2 separate regions of the Homo sapiens genome follow, and region 2 is linked to region 1. The links come from fine-mapping of genetic effects on gene expression. Tissue or cell type: whole blood. Region 1 holds a variant in brackets; the other region holds the start of a gene. All regions are shown on one strand. Distances are from middle to middle.

Region 1 (2,754 bases):
ATGCTGCCAGGAGCGCGTCCCTTCCCTGGGATTCCCTGAGTAATTCCTTATCAAGTGCCTCAGGCACGGAGGCCGCTCTGGTTTTGCAGCCCATACTCAGATGTGTTGCTCCTGCAGCTCCCAGCCAGCCAGTGAGAAGGCAGCACTCAGCTGCAAAGATTTCTGCTCAGATCCCCAGCCCTAGGAAGAAAGCTCATTATTTGGACTAGGCCACCACTCACCACAGAGTAATCAGAGGGCAGCGGAAACCACCTGCCTGAAGGAGAAATCCTCTATTCAGGAACCTTGGACCTGTTCAGCTGTGCCACTTACTAGCTAGGTAACCTGAGCAGATCACTTGGCCTTTTTGGGCTTCAGTCTCCTCATCTGTGCAGTGGATATACAGATAGCTATTGTGAGGATTAAGTAAAATATTGTATATGAGAGTGTGATATGGTTTGGCTGTGTCCCCACCCCAGTCTCATCTTGAATTGTAGCTCCCATAATTCCCATGTGTTGTGGGAGGGACCCAGTGGGAGGTAAATCATGGGGATGGTTTCCCCCATAGTGTTCCCATCCATGGTCGTGAATAAGTCTCACGTGATCTGATGGTTTTATAAGAAGCTTCCCTTTTCACTTGACTCTCATTCTCTCTTGCTTGCCACCATGTAAGATGTGCCTTTCGCCTTCCACCATGATTGTGAGGCCTCCCCAGCCATGTGAAACTCTGAGTCCATTAAACCTCTTTTTCTTTATAAATTACCTGGTCTCAGGTATGTCTTTATCAGCAGCAGTGAAAATGGACTAATACAAAGTGCTTTGTGCTTATCTCCTTTCTTCCTCAACTGTCATGTGTCAGAGGCTTATCCCAATCTCCTGTTCTCACCCTCAGCTGCTTTTGTTCCAAACTGACCCGCTCCCACGCTTAGAGGCAGCCTAGGCTTGGAGGAACCCCAGGGTCTCCATTTAAAGGCTGCTTAATCTGTGTTAAAATAAACTTGAATTGAACCAAAGGTAAATGACGCAGAAAATAACAATCCCATCCAATGGGAATGGACAGGGATGATTGGGACTCTGCCTCTTTGGTCTGCTGTCTGCGTAATGGAATCCGATACCCTATGGCCGTAGCTGGGCTAATGGAGGGTGATGGAAACCAGAAGGAGGACTGGCTTGACAAAATGCAGACATCCACTGGTGTTTACAAACCCAACAGCTAGGAGCCTTCTCTGAAAGCCAAACTCGGCCTCTTCTCTCCCTCAGCATTAATTTCCAACACAAATATTTGGAAATAAAATCATTAATCCTTTTTGCCAAGTTTAGGGGGTAGGGTTGGGGGTAAATAATACCATGTCCAACATCAGACCCAGCAAACAGCCCCATGCGTCACTCCCTACAGGAAACAGCCTTGTGCAGCAGGACACTGGCGCAGTAGATGCTTAGCCAACACTGGCCAGTTCTCTGGGTGACCAGCAGAGCTCAGAGGACTTCCTAGAGCTCACCCAGAAATGCGACCCTAGCAAAGTCCTAATGCTTGGGAAGAATGAGGGGAGAGGGGAGAAAAATTGGGAGTCAAGATGGAGTCACAGAAATAACTC[G/A]GGAGCCAGCAAGAGGCTACATCTGCTACCAATAGCAAGTGGACAGCTCTGCCCTCACACCCGGCTGCTGGGACGAAATGGAAAGCAGCTGGTCTCCCCGGGAAGGTCCTGTCCCCATTTGACGTGGGCGAGTCCCATAGCCCAGTTTTCTCACATTCCTTTACTTCTATGTGAAAAGACAGGTTTCTAGGCACACACCAGGGCCTGGCACCTGCACAGCAAGGTCCTGTTTCAAAGCCTGGGGACAACAGTCATTCAGGATAATAAAGTGCAAATGTATTGCTGGGGAAGCTGGGGGCTCTGTAGGATGTGACCTCTTTGGCTTCTGATGCTCTACTCTGGGGCCTGATCGCTGGGGGCTCCTCCCTTCTCTGACCCTGTGATGGGTTGAATTGTGTCCCCCAGAAAGATACGCTGAAGTCATAACCCTTAGTACCTTGTTTGGAAATGGGGTCACTGCAGATGTAATTAGTGAAGTGAAGATGAGGTTGTACCAGAGTAGGGTGGATCCCAAATCCAATATGACTGTTGTCCTTATAAGAAGAGGGGCTTGAACACATACAGAGACAGGGAGAACTCCCTGTGACCGTGGAGGTAGAGATTTCAGCTGTGGGCCGGGAGCATCAGTCACCTTGGGGAGCTGGAGAGAAGCAAGCAGCGGTTCTACCTAGGGTCTCAGAAGCGCTCAGTTCTGCAGACCGGGGCATGTTTCAAGCCACCCAGTTTATGGTGCTTTGTTGCAGCTGCCATTGGAAACTAATTCAGGGCCCAAGCCCTAAAGCCTAATTCCACCCCCAACCTTTCTCCACACCCTGTGGGGGCGGAACCATGGTAGGCCTGAGAATCCACCTGGAGGAGGGGTCAGTTGCCCTGGGGAGTTGCCATCAGAAATTGCAGAGGCTGAGCAAGGCCTGGTGTGTGCCGTACAGAAGTGGGTGGGCATGAGGAAGGACGAGGTGGGCACTATCTCCTGGCAGGCCCCTGACCTGGGGAGGGGCTCAGGGAGGGTGGAATCAGGTGAGCAGAGAAAGGCTGACATCTTCTCCAGCTGTGGACTCTGAAATGACTGGGACTAGAACAGAATCAAGCCTCCTCTAGACTTTTCGTGAAAACCTTGGAGTCTCTGCCAACAGAAAGGGGGAAAAAGAGCCCCAAACACACCTACTTCCCATTTCTCCAT
Region 2 (2,754 bases), 160 kb after region 1:
ATACTGGGATTACACAGGTGTGAGCCACCGTGCCGGGCTAAAAATAAGCTTTTTAATTTAACGCTCGTTTTTATGAAAAGATTCATCTAAAGACAGAACCAGGATATTCTAATGAAAGGAGTCTATTGTTATTTCACATGGCTAAGAGCGATTGATTACAATCTAAAGAACAGTTCCGGGGTTAACTGAAAGAACTAGCTTATCCACAGAAACCCTTTCAATCCCAGAAGGAGAAATTTAGAATTTGGAAACTGAACATTAGTCATTTCTTAAGGTAAAGCCACTTCATTCCAAAGTCACTGTCTGTTCGCCCTTAATTTATCACCGTAATTTATCTAAGAGGTAAAACTGAACACCGAAAAGGTAAGATGTAGAGTGACAAAAGGAGACGGTGGGTCACAGGGCGAGTGCCCAGGTGACTTCGGGCCTCAGTCCTCTCGCCAGCAAAGGGCGGACAATGACCCCTCCCGTCCCGCCCGGGAAGGCGATCGAGGAAACGCACTGGCCAGGCCCATTTACTGATGCTCAGCAGGGTTTGCAAAAAGCCCCCAACGGGAGGTTTTCATGCTGAAAGTCCTGTTGCCCCCCCATCCCCCACCATCTAATTAACCTGCACGTTACTGTAAGGAAGGTTCTGCTTCCGTAATTTTCTTTATTTCGACAGAGGCTGGAGAAAAAAAATCATAGGCTGGAAGAGGGGAGCGATGGGCAGGCCGATCTGCAGGGCGCAGGAGCAGGCCGGGAGGACCCAGCCCTCCAAGGCTGCATCAGCGCCCCCGCCGCGTGACCAGGGCCACCGGTTTACTGCACAGCTCCCCCGTCCCCAGAACGCAGCCTCCCCGCCAACCCCAGGAACCAAGGGTGCCCAAAGGCCTCCTACCCGGAACCCCGGGGCGCCTCGGGGTCTCTGGGCCGGGTGGGCCGAGTCCTGGCCTCCACAGGCCGCGAGCGCAGGGGGCGGCGGCTCCGCCCGGTCTGGCAGGCGGGGCTGCCACATCCTCAGCCTCTCCCTGCCGCCCGCCCGTCGGCCGCTCTGGGCTGGAACCAGGACTCCGGCCTGCAAGCCGTGGGTCGCCACGCCCCTGCCCCCTGAAGCTGCGCGCCGGCCGGAGACTCCAGGGCGCCCGGGTCCGAGCCGCCCGCAGAGTAAACGGGCCGCTGAAGCGGGGCTCGTTCCCCGGCCGAGGCCCAGCGCGCCCCCTCAGCCAGCATCCCCCGAACCCGGGCCGCGGCCACCCCGCGCCCGCCCGCCTCCCCCGCCGCTGTCAGGGAACCCCGGCCAGGGCCCGAACCAGAGCCCCAGGACAGCGGCGCCCAGACGGTACCTGACAGCGCCTGAGGACAACCGGGTACACGCGGCGTCTATGAAGCGCAACAGTGACGCCGGAGAGTCACTGCAACTTAAAGGCTGATTCTGCCCCGCCCCCAAGACACCCTCGCCGCTCATTGGCTGGGGCGGAGGGCAGGATACCAATCGCGTGGGTCCCGTCCTCCGCCCCGCCCTCCGGCCGCGCATCAAGGATCTTTGCTCCTCCCGCGGATTCGATCCGCGCTCGCGCCTCCTGAGCCCGCCGGCCTGTACCTGAGCTCAGGCCCCTCGGTCGCCTCCTCTGGCGGGACGAGAAGAGTCCTTGTCCGCCCTTGCTGACGAGAAGACTGAGGCCCGAAAAGGAAAAGTCTGTTGGGCCCCCCACTGCGCGGGCCGGGTGTGGCTGGAGGCCGAGAGACGTGAGGCTGGACCGCCCGCCCTGTGCTCCTGGAGGGAGGGACCAGCCCCAGCTCTGCCCCAGCCACAGCTGCGGGAGCCCCATGCCCTTGAACCCTGATGCGCCGCGCGGCTTAGTTGTGCCTCTGAATCCACCTCCAAAAGTCGTCGCTGCCTATGGAAAACACACTGCCCACCTGTTCGCAGCTGCTGTCAGATAATTGAGTGGCAGCAACCCACTCACAGTACAGATTTGCCTGTGGTGCCCTCCACAGCCGGTTATTAAATTCAGAACACAAAATAGATATTCCGGGACAACCTCATGTTAGAATCGGAAGGGACTTGGACTTCACTTAGCCCACAACAAGATGTTAAATATTGGAAAACAGAGACCCAGAGAAGGAAAGCGACTTACCCAGTCATCCAACAGTAGGGGCAGTCTGGTCCTGTGTGCCCCTCGCCACCCCTCTCAGAGGGCAGGCGCTGGCAGCTGCCGGCACCACACTCCATTAGACCACAATGACCAGTCGGGGGCCCAGCTGGAAACAGAGGGCACACTCCAATGTGAACATTTCCTAAAACGTGGTGGTGGGGGCCCGTGGTTCATGCCTGTAATCCCAGCACTTTGGCAGACCGAGGCAGGAGGATTGCTTGATCCCAGGAGTTCCAGACCAGCCTGGGCGACACAGTGAGACCCCGTCTCCACAAAAAAAAATAAAAATTAATCTGGTGTGGTGGCACACCTATGTTCCCAGCTACTCCAAAGGCTGAGGTGGGAGGATCACTTGAGCCCAGGAGGTTGAGGCTGCAGTGACCTATGACTGCACCACTGCACTCCAGCCTGGGCAACAAAGCAAGACCATCTATCTTAATCAACCAATCAATCAATCAATGTAGGCAAGTAAACCACAAGGGATGGAGAAATAACCTGGGTCTCATGCACCAGCGAGGGCCATTATCCATCCTAGGCCCAACGGCCTCCAAGTGGGGTTTCCAGAATTCCAGAACCCAAAGAGAGGAGTGTGGGAAAGGCTATCTGGTCACCAAAG

The links. PIP is the estimated chance that this variant, and not a neighbour inherited with it, causes the effect.
Region 2: it holds the start of OAT, and the variant in region 1 is fine-mapped to the expression of OAT in whole blood (INTERVAL, PIP 0.96).

Annotation. Positions count from the first base shown.
Region 1 is chr10:124,254,629-124,257,382 of GRCh38, forward strand. No RefSeq gene overlaps it. Among named protein-coding and RNA genes, the nearest start is that of CHST15, 160 kb to the left of the region's middle. The variant G/A (reference allele first, on the strand shown) is at 1,575.
Region 2 is chr10:124,417,548-124,420,301 of GRCh38, forward strand. It overlaps OAT (ornithine aminotransferase), which reads right to left and starts at 1,376. Exons shown (of 10, transcript NM_000274.4): 1 at 1,326-1,376. RefSeq lists silencers at 936-1,475, 1,418-2,077 and an enhancer at 2,051-2,565.